Linked DNA regions of Homo sapiens: region 1 is linked to region 2. Evidence: fine-mapped expression QTL. A gene starts in region 2. The other region holds a variant in brackets. All regions are shown on one strand. Distances are from middle to middle.

What was found. PIP is the estimated chance that this variant, and not a neighbour inherited with it, causes the effect.
Region 1: its variant is the best candidate, but not a certain one, in a credible set for the expression of ATP8B3 in lung (TOPMed, PIP 0.76).

Annotation. Positions count from the first base shown.
Region 1 is chr19:1,781,871-1,787,232 of GRCh38, reverse strand. It overlaps ATP8B3 (ATPase phospholipid transporting 8B3), which reads left to right. Exons shown (of 29, transcript NM_138813.4): 25 at 47-130; 26 at 1,525-1,764; 27 at 1,936-2,074; 28 at 2,287-2,414; 29 at 3,963-5,158. The coding sequence ends at 4,205. Among named protein-coding and RNA genes, the nearest start is that of ATP8B3, 28 kb to the left of the region's middle. The variant T/C (reference allele first, on the strand shown) is at 2,849.
Region 2 is chr19:1,809,042-1,814,403 of GRCh38, reverse strand. ATP8B3 (ATPase phospholipid transporting 8B3) reads left to right here and starts at 2,128. Exons shown (of 29, transcript NM_138813.4): 1 at 2,128-2,218; 2 at 2,520-2,915; 3 at 3,721-3,782; 4 at 4,670-4,761. The coding sequence starts at 2,668. RefSeq lists enhancers at 1,335-1,494, 1,875-2,620 and a silencer at 2,045-2,414.

The sequences.
Region 1 (5,362 bases), 27 kb after region 2:
TGCCTGGAGGCTGACTTGTTCTCCTTGCCCTTCTCCCCCGGCTCAGCCCCTGTATGAAGGATGGTTCCTGGCTCTTTTCAACCTCCTGTACAGCACCCTGCCAGTTCTCTACATTGGGCTCTTTGAGCAGGTGAGCAGGGCAAGGCCGGGTCTTCCTTCCAGGTCTCTGCTTAGCCTCTCCTCCTCTCCTCCGCTCCTTGGGGCGGGGAGAGGGAGCCTGGGAGACCTTCAGGCCATGGGGTGGGGCTCAGGGGGTGCAGTCCAGTACCTCTCCCTGCCCACTGCCATTGACCTTCTCCCACCGGAGCCTACGCTCATCCCGGGGCCATCCAGCTCCTCCTGTGTGTGGGAGCCCCCACCCTGTGCTGGAGCCCCCGTGCCTCTGTCTACCCATCCATGCAATGGGGAGAGAGGATCAGAGCAGATGACTCTGCTAGGTTTATCATCCCCCAGCTCCAAGAGGCCCTGGCTACGTGATCTGGGGTTGGGAGGGTGGGTCACATGGAACGTTCCAGATGATGGAAGTGTCCCACAGCTATGCAATCCAACACAGAAGCCAGCAGCCATACGTGCCCATGAGGAACGCTTGTGTTGCGGCTGGTGTGACCCAGGGACTGGATTTTACATCTCATTTCATGTTTGCTAGAATCTTTTTTTTTTTTTTTTTGAGACAGGGTCTCGCTCTGTCGCCCAGGCTGGAGTGCAGTGGCACAATCTCAGCTCACTGCAACCTCTGCCTCCCGGGTTCAAGCGATTCTCCTGCCTCAGCCTCCTGAGTAGCTGGGATTACAGGCGTGCACCACCATGCCCGGCTAATTTTTTTATTTTTAGTAGAGACAGGATTTCGCCATGTTGGCCAGGCTGGTCTTGAACTCCTGACCTCAGGTGATCCTCCCACCTCGGCCTCCCCAAGTGCTGGGATTACAGGCGTGAGCCACCGCACCTGGCCTTGCTGGTATCTTTAACTGTGGTGGAATACAAATCACGTAAACTGCCCCGTCTCAGCCAGACTCATGCGCACAGCCCAGCATCACCTAGTGCGTTCGTGTGGCCAAGTGACCAACCTCCAGAGCTCTTTCCATTTCATTTTATTTTATTCTGTAGACGAGGTCCCATTCTCTCACCCAGGCTGGAGTGCAGTGGTGCGATCACAGCTCACTGCAGCCTCCACTCCTGGGCTCAAATGATCCTCCTGCCTCAGCCGCCCAAGTAGATGGGATTACAGGTGCGCACCACCACACCCAGCTCCTTTAAAAGGTTTTTTTGGAGATGGGGGGTTTCACTATGTTGTCCAGGCTGGTCTCAAACTCCTGGCCTTAAGCGATCCTCCCACCTTGACCTCCTAAAGTGCTGAGATTACAGGCGTGTGCCACCGTGCCTGGCCTTACTTTATTTTAACTCACTTAAACTCAAAGAGCCACACACAGAGAGTGGCCACCCTACTGGCCTGCCCGAGGAGATCCTGATCTCTGTTGGGTGTCCCCCGCCCCCCACCCAATCCCAAGAGCTTCTGCTTGCCCCAAGGACGTGAGCGCAGAGCAGAGCCTGGAGAAGCCGGAGCTGTACGTGGTGGGGCAGAAGGACGAGCTCTTCAACTACTGGGTCTTCGTCCAAGCCATCGCCCATGGTGTGACCACCTCTCTGGTCAACTTCTTCATGACACTGTGGATCAGCCGCGACACGGCGGGACCCGCCAGCTTCAGCGACCACCAGTCCTTTGCGGTCGTGGTGGCCCTGTCTTGCCTGCTGTCCATCACCATGGAGGTGGGCAAGGTCCTCACCTCCCCGGGGCCTTGGACATGGCCTATGGAGGCCTCCTCCCCTGGGGACCCCTGCTTTGGGGGCATTGCCAGGTGCCCTTCCTGGACCCCAGGGGCTGGTGTCCTGGTGCAAGCCCCGCTAGGCCCCGGATTTACCCCACCGCTGCCTGTCCAGGTCATTCTTATCATCAAGTACTGGACCGCCCTGTGCGTGGCGACCATCCTCCTCAGCCTTGGTTTCTACGCCATCATGACTACCACCACCCAGAGCTTCTGGCTCTTCAGAGTATCCCCCACGACCTTCCCGTTTCTGTGTGAGCCCCCATGGGGAAGTGGGACGGGCGGTCGTGGTGCAGGGGAGCCCCGATGGAAGAGGTTGCAGGTTGCTCATGACAGTCGTCCGGCAAAGTGTCCTGGGGAAGGCGCTCCTTTATGGACCAGGCACAAAGGCACCAAGGCGCTCCCTAGCCTGGGGGCATCCTTGGAGCTGGGGGTAGGCTCTGCTGTGACCCCGCCCTGTCCCCAGATGCCGACCTCAGCGTGATGTCCTCTCCCTCCATCCTGCTGGTGGTCCTGCTGAGTGTGTCCATAAACACCTTCCCTGTCCTGGCCCTCCGAGTCATCTTCCCAGCCCTCAAGGAGCTACGTGCCAAGGTGAGGTGGGCCTGGGCCTGGGGTCCTCATCTGGTACATTCCAGGACCCTGGTTGGGGAGCCGTGCAGGGCGTAGGGACTGCAAGGTGTCCCGGCCCCTCTCGGCCCTCCAAGACACTAGGCTTGGGGGAAGGGTGGGTGCGGAGCCCCGGACACACGCCCAGTGCCCCCGGGGCCCGATTTCCCAAGAAGGGAGACCTCACTCCCCCGACAAAGCAGCAGAGAGCACCCAAACGCCGCCCTGGATTCCAGTGCTGATGCCATCGGGCTCTTAAGGTTTTATTTATTTATTTATTTTTACTTTTTGAGAAGGGTCTTGTGCTGTCACCCAGGCTGGAGTGCAGTGGCACAATCTCGGCTCACTGCAGCCTCGACCTTCCGGGCTCAAAGGATCCTCCCACCTCAGCTTTCCAAGTAGCTGAGACCACGGGCATG[T/C]ACCACCACGCCCAGCTAATTTTGTAGTTATTTTCTAGAGATGGAGACTCATTATGGTGCCCAGGCTGGTTCAAACTCCTGGGCTCACGCAATCCTCCTGCCTTGGCCTCATAACATGTTGGGATTTCAGGCATGAGCCACACTGTGCCTGGCTGACACCATCAGATTCTACCGTGAATGATCTAGAGCTTGGGGGTTGAGATGACGGAAACAACCTTGAAATGGTTTAGGCAAAAGGAGGAACTTAGAAATAAGAGTCTGTTGACAGATGAGTGGGTCAACACGGCACGCTCCATCTGTGCAATGAAACACGCCTGAGCCGTGAGAAGGAGTGAGGCTCTGACACAGGCCACAGCGTGGATGCACCTTGAGGACATGTGCTCAAGGCCAGGCGCAGCGGTTCACACCTGTAATCCCAGCACTTTGAGAGGCTGAAGCAGGTGGCTTGCTTGAGCCTGGGAGGTTGAGGCTGCAGTGAGCTATGATTTTTGCCACTGCACTCCTATCTGGGCAACAGAGCAAGACCCCACCTCAAAAAAAAGGGAGGGGACTTACTAGCCCACGTAACCAAAGCATGCATGGAAAAGCAAGTTGCAGCTGAGATGGGCCCCAGAATTGACTGGAATGGTGTACCTGCCCTGCCACCTCTGTTCTCCCTGCCCAGCTCCTGCCACCTTTACTGCACAGGCTGGGCACCTGGCTGTCCCAGGCTCACCTCTCCTGGATTTGCCACCAAAGGGCAGCCAAGGCACCTGGTGGCTGGTCCAGAGTCGGGGAAGGACTCTGATTGGCTGAGCCAGGGTTAAGTCCCAGGGAAGGACTCTGATTGGGTGGTCCCGAGTTAAGTCCCAGGGAATAACTCTGATTGGCTGATCCAGGGTTAGTTTCCAGGGCAAGGCCAATTAGTGGGTCTTGAAAAGCAAAGGACTAGAGTCCTCCTTAGAACTCAACACTGAGAGTCGAGGACTCTAATTGGCTCAACTTGGGTAGGGAAGAACGTAGCCAATCAATAGTGGCCAAGGGCTTTGAATCCTGCCTCTCCTACTTGGGGGACCTGAGAGCCATCAGCCAAGCATAGGAGTCTGCTTCCCCTGCTCTCCCCTTTGCTCTTCAGGAGGAGAAGGTGGAGGAGGGCCCCAGCGAGGAGATTTTCACCATGGAGCCCTTGCCTCATGTACACCGGGAGTCTCGTGCCCGCCGTTCCAGCTATGCTTTCTCCCACCGTGAGGGATATGCAAACCTCATCACTCAGGGCACAATTCTGCGGAGGGGACCAGGGGTCAGCAGTGACATAGCATCTGAATCCCTAGACCCATCTGATGAAGAGGCAGCTTCGAGCCCAAAAGAGTCACAGTGACACCTCAGGAAGATGTCCTTCCTGGGGAAGAAGAAGCACCAGCCACAGGGGCAGGTGTCCTCCCAGGAAGTACAGCTCCCCCCTACACCTAGCTCATCATTTTCTATGGATAGACAATCCGCTCTTCATCCAGAAAACCAACCTGCCCTCCCCAAATATGTGCTCACCAGCAGCAACAGGCTATCTGAGTCTTTCCAAGAGCAATTGCCAAGGGCACAGGAGAGGTCATTGTCACCCAAGCAGAGGCCACCTTCTCCTGAGAAGTTGCTGTTGACCAAGGAGAGGTCACATTCTTTTCAGGAGAAATCACTGTTGCACAGAGAAAGCCAGCTGTCGTCATTTGAGAGCCAGCCACAGCCTCTGGGGAGCCAGTCATTTCTTTCAGGCCAGCTGACGTTGGAGAGCCAGCCAGACTCCTCGGAGGAGAAGTCAGCATTTTTGAAGCCCTCCACACCGTTCCGGAAGAGCTGGCAAAAGGAGCCTCACACCCCCAAGGAGGGGACGGTGCCACTTCCAGACAAGACCCACAAATCTCAGGTGGAGACTCTGCCACCAAGTCTGGAAGAATCGTCCACGTCCACGAGCGAGCAGCCTATGGAGGTGGAGCTGTGGCCCGCGGAGAAGCAGTCATCATCATCCATGGAGTGGCTGCTGGTGCCCGGGGAGGAGCAGCTATCCTTGCCCCCAGAGGAGCAGTCATTGCCCTCTGCGGAGGGGACCAGGGTTCAGCAGTGACGTAGCATCTGAATCCCTAGACCCATCTGATGAAGAGGCATCTTCGAGCCCAAAGGAGTCACGCTGGCATATCAGGAAGATGTCCTTCCTGGGAAGAAGAAGCTCCAGCCAGTTCTGCTGCAAGTCAACCAGCATGCAGGGGGCCTTCCTCTAAAGACAAGGACTCCACATGCTTTTCTTTTTCTAATAAACCAGGGTCCATCTGACCCCAGCGCTAATTCAGGCTCCCTCTTTCCCTACACTTTTTTTGTGATGGAATATTCCTTCCCGGTTTTTAAAATCAAAACACTGACCTCTAGTGGTCCAGCCGGGTATTTGCAGGGAAAACTTTCCTTCTTCATGCTGGGGTAAGATAATGTGGGTAAAGCTTCATTGCTCTCAAAAGTTGCTTATTAAAAGCTGTGGCTCCCCCGCTGCCTGAC
Region 2 (5,362 bases):
GGAGTTGTTTTCTTTTTCTTCTTTATTTTTGAGACACAGTCTCGCTTTGTCACCCAGTCTCAGCTGGCTGCAACCTCTGTCTGCCGAGTAGCTGGGATTATGGCTGTGCCATCACACCTGGCTAATTTCGTATTTTTAGTAGAGATGGGGTTTCACCACGTTGGCCAAGCTGGTCTCGAACTCCTGACCTCAAGTGATCCACCTGCCTCGGCCTCCCAAAGCGTTGGGATTACAGGCATGAGCCACTGTGCCCGGCTCTGTGTTCTAAATAAATGGCGCAGGCGTGTATGCGCTCTGTTTCTGTGCATTCCCATGTGATGTCTGCCTCCCCCTTCCCAGAACGCACCTGGTGCCTCAGGACATAGCCCACGGGGGGTCCCAAGGCTGGCCAGCCCTGGCTTCAGCCCCCAGGGACTCCCTTCAGCTTGTGAAGCCACCTGTTGCCACTGGAGGCTTCAGGGCCTTTGCACAAGTGCCCTGGGCAAGCTCCTGCCCCCAGATAGTGCCCCCTGCGAAGGCTGGGGTGGGGGAATCTGGTCCTCACAGCTGCACCCAACCAGGTCTCTTCTAAAGTTTATTAGAACAGTGTGTTCAAACTCCCAGCCCCGGCTTTTTTTCGTAACCACTGAGCAAGCAAGCAAGCACAGGGGAAGTGTTGAAGGAATGAAAGGAGAGAAGTCAAACACAGTGGCCTGCCTGCCTGCTTGTGGTCCCAGCTACTCTGGAGGCTGAGGCAGGAGGATCGCTTGAGCCCAGGAGGTGGAGGCTGCAGTGAGCTCTGATCGCACCACTGCACTCCAGCCCGGGTGACACAGTGAGACTCTGTCTCCAAAAAAAGAGAGGTTCCCTGGCAGCCTCCAGGGCCAAGCAGGCTTCCAATTTGGGCTTCCAAAGAAAGAGGGTTTGTGATCACCGAGAGCCCTCAGGTGGTTGCCGCTTTGATGGGGGAGGTGGCTTCCCTATCCCCCTCCACCCATGTTTGCCTCTCCCTTTGGGCCCTCACCCCAGGTAGCCTCACTCTTGGGGGCATTTCATCTTCAGCAGCCCCTCCGCACACACTTTCTGACCCTGGCTCCAGGCCCTATCGCTGGCCTGGACCCGCCCTAGCCTCGTCGCTGAACTCACCCCTGCCACTTCTTCAGTAAGGATCCCTGAGCCCCTGCCACCTGCTGGAAAGAACCCTGCGGGCTTCCTCTTGGCCTTAGGGTGGTCTCAATGGCTATAACCGCCTCTCCCCAGCCTGGTGCTCAGCCCTGCATCTGCGCCTAGGAGGCGCTCGTTGAACGTGTATGGGATGAATGAACGAACCCAGGACACGGATCAGACATGACTTACATAACCGCCGTTACCTGTGGTCCTTCCTCCTGCACTCTGCCACGCTGGCCGCACCAGCCTCAGCCCCGTCAGGTCTGCAAGGCCCATTCCGACCTGACCCAGGCCCACCTTTCCAAGAACCCTTCCAACCCCGCCCTGCGGTGCAGGTTCTTTCTGCTCCCTGACCAAGCCCGGCCCGGCCCTGCCCTGACACCCTCTTCCCTTTCAGGCTCCGCCCCTGCACTGGCACTGCTCCCTAAGGCCCTCCCAAGGCCCTGCCTTCTGTCCTGGACCCACCCTGAGCGCCCTCCTACCCTGACCCTGCTCTGCGCGGCCCCGCCTTCCTCCTTTGTAACGGCTCCGGATCCCAGCCCCGCCCCTACCATAACACTGCTCCGCAAGGCCATGCTCAACCCCGCTTCCCGCTCTGGCCAAGCCCCTGAGTCCTGGCCCCGCCCCTACTCTGACTTTGCTCAGCGAGACCCCGCTCGTCCTCGCCTTCCTTCTAGTCCCTTCCCCAAAGTCCCGGCCCCTCCCCAGACCCAGGCACTGCTCCCGAGCGTCTTCTATCCCGGCCTGTTCTGCGAGGCTCTGCGAGGCCCCGCCCTTCGGCCGTGACCGCGTCCCTGAGGCCTGGCCCCCATCCTGCTCGGCCGTGCTCCGCTCGGCCCCACCCTCGAGGCCCCGCCCCTTCTTCGCCTTGGCCCCACCCACCCCCTCCAGGCCCCGCCCCCGGCCCCCTTCCGGGGTCCGAACTGGCTCCACCTTCGCCTTGGCCGGGCCCCGAGGCCCCGCCCCGAGATCCCGCCCCCCGTTTCAGGACCGTTGGCACCGGGCTAACGGTTCCACCACGTCCGCCGCCCTGGACGCCCGCGGCCTGCCCCCCCCTGCCTCTCCTGCGCCGGTGAGCGGCGGGTGCTCCCACTGCTGTGCGTCCCCGGGAGCCCGCGCACCCTCTCTGGGCTCCACCCAGGCTGAGAGCTGGGGTCGTGGCGGCGGGGGTGGAGAGCGCGCCCCTAGAGGTTCGCGCGGTCGGGGCCCCGGGGCGGGTGCAGACAGCCCTGGACTCTGGAGCCCTGTCCAGGGCGGTCCTGTGCCCCTGCGGCTGCGGGAAGACGGGGTGGGGGGCTTCCGAGTAATGGGGCATCCCAGTTAGTGAGGGGGCAGGAAGCCAGCGCTGTGTCCGTGTCTCTTTCTGCCCCCAGATACACTTCGAGTGGATTCTGGCCATTTGAGCATTCTCTCCAACTCTCCAATCCCCAGTCTGCCCCCACGGGGGTCTCCCCCACCTCTCCCCCGTCCCACAGCCTAAACCCCTCTTCGCCCTGAACCTCCCTTTTCCTCATGCGGTGAATGGGCACTGGCCCCGCTCAGACTCCCAGGAGCACCAGAGCTGGCCCTGAGCCAAGCCCTGCCCCACCAGGACCTGGGGACACGGGTGACTCAGACGTGACTCAGGAAGGCTCAGGTCCTGCTGGCATCCGCGGAGGTGAGACGGTGATCAGAGCTGGGATGGGAGACTCCCCAGGCAGAGGGGCACCTGAGAGGAGGCACAAGGCCCAGCCTGGCCGGGCTAGGAAGTATGAATGGAGACCAGAAGGGTGAGGACGGGTGCATCGGGTGGCCGGAACACAGGGGCAGGGGCTTGGCGGGGAGGGCACTGCTAGAGAGCTGGCAGGTGGGGGGCCAGTTGCTGGCGTCTAGGGGTGGTTTGCCCATCCTCATAGGGGGCCAAACCAGGGCCCCCGGTGCAGGGCTAGAGCCAGACCCACATTCCTGAACCTGCTAGTGGAGAAGATTCCAGGATCTTCTGACGATGTCCGTCTGCCTCCATCGCCCCCATCAGAGTTTGCTGCCCAGCCTGGGGGGGTGAGGAGGGGAGTGGCCATGCCTGACCCTCATGCTGTGTTTTGAGATATAACATATAGCCCGGGGGTCCCATTCAGTCAGTGAACAGATGACTGAGCCCCTAAGCTGGTGCCACATGGGGAGAGGGGCAGGAGGCCGTCAGTGAAACCAGGAGGAGGTGAGAGTGGTCCTTTCAGGAAAAGCGAGGTGTGGGGAGCAGTGGCCGGAGGCTGGCATGGCCAGAGGCTGGCATGGCTGGCGGTAGAGTCCTTCTAGGCTGTACTGGCGGGAGGCGACCAGGGTGGCTGGCGGGGGACACTGGCAGATGGGCTGTTGCAGGTTTGAGGATCATCTTGGGGTCCCCTAGGTCTCAGGATGTCCAAGGCAAGACACACAGCCTATGGCTGGACATTCAGAGCCTGGCGGGGAGGCTGCAGATGAGTGTGGGAGGTAGCATTTGAGAGGGTCGGCCCCTAGGCTGTGAGCTCCTTGAAGACCGAGTGGTGCCCAGCAAGGGCTGGGGTCACTGCTGTGACCCGGGGCCCTTCTCTCCCACAGCCCCACCAGCATGGGCAGCCTCGGCCAGAGAGAAGATCTCCAAGATGAGGACAGGAACTCAGGTGCTGATCCTGGGCAGAGGGGGCGGTGCAGGTGGGAGGGATTATGAAGTTCAGGGCTGGCCAGGCGTGGTGGCTCTCCCCTGTAATCCCGGCACTTTGGGAGGCTGAGGCGGGTGGATCACTTGAGGTCAGGGGTTCGAGAGCCTGGGCAACATGGAGAAACCCCGTTTCTACTAAAAGTACGAAGATTAGCTGGGCGTGGTGGCGTATGCCTGTAATTCTAGCTACTTGGGAGGCTGAGACAGGAGAATCACTTGAACCCAGGAGACCCAGGAGGTGGAGGTTGCAGTGAGCTGCGATTGTGCTACTGCACTCCAGCCTGGGTGACAGAGCGAGACTCCATCTCAAAAAAAAGAAAAAAGTGCAGGGCTGAGGCTGAGACGGGCTGGGGCCCCCAGACCTGCACGTCAGGCCTTGCCTAGGATTCTCATTTGGTTTCTAGTAGTCTCCAACCCTAGTACTGACTGGGTTTGGGGGATTTGGCTCAGGATTTGGGGGCTGCATGCCCAGAAAGATCTGGGCCGCCAGCTGGATGTATGGCCTTGGACACCCAAGAGCCCATCACCAAGCCTCAGTTTACCCCCCTCTGTAAAATGTACAGGCCTGAACGGTCTCCCAGGGCCTGTTCTCTGCGTCTCAGGACAGGCCCCTGGCTGGGGGTGTGGGTGGCCACTCTCGGAATCCACTTGTGCCGGCGCCAACTATGGGCAGGGTCTGGTAGGTCCCCAGGTGGTGCCTGCTGCCCGACTGTCTGTTTACGGGCTCTGACATCTCGGGCCTCCCCAGTGCCTGGGTCCCACGGGCCCCATGAGCCCTCCTCCGGGCGGTCATTAGGGGTGTTTGTCCTGGGCCTCGAGCTCCAGCGACGCCCGGCTCTCTCGCTGCAGCATTCACCTGGAAGGTCCAGGCCAACAACCGTGCCTACAACGGGCAGTTCAAGGAGAAGGTGATCCTGTGCTGGCAAAGGAAGAAATACAAGGTGGGCGGCCCCTCCCGCGCCTCCCTGCTCCAGAGGAGCTGCCGTGGTACCCTCGGGGAATCTATTTTTTGCTCCTCCTGAGTCCTGCCTCTGCTTGTATTTGCTCGATAGTTTTCTTTTTTTGGTTTTCGTTTTCTTTTTCTTTCTTTCTTTTTTTTTTTTGAGACAGAGTCTCCCTCTGTTGCCCAGGCTGGAGTGCAGTGGCGACATCTCGGCTCACTGCAACCTCCACCTCCGGGGTTCAAGCAATTCTCCTGCCTCAGCCTCCCAAGTAGCTGGGATTACAGGCATGCACCACCACGCCTGACTAATTTTTGTATTTTTAGTAGAGACAGTTTCACCATGTTGGCCAGGCTGGTCTCGAACTCCTGATCTCAGGTGATCCACCCACCTCGGCCTCCCAAAGTGCTGGGATTACAGGCGTAAGCCACTGCGCCCAGCCTCTTTTTTCTTTTTTCTGTTTTGTTTTAAGATGGAGTCTCGCTCTGTCGCCCAGGCTGGAATGCAGTGGCGAGATCTCGGCTCACTGCAACCTCTGCCTCCCGGGTTCTAGTGATTCTCCTGCCTGAGACTCCCAAGTAGCTGGGATTACAGGCACCCA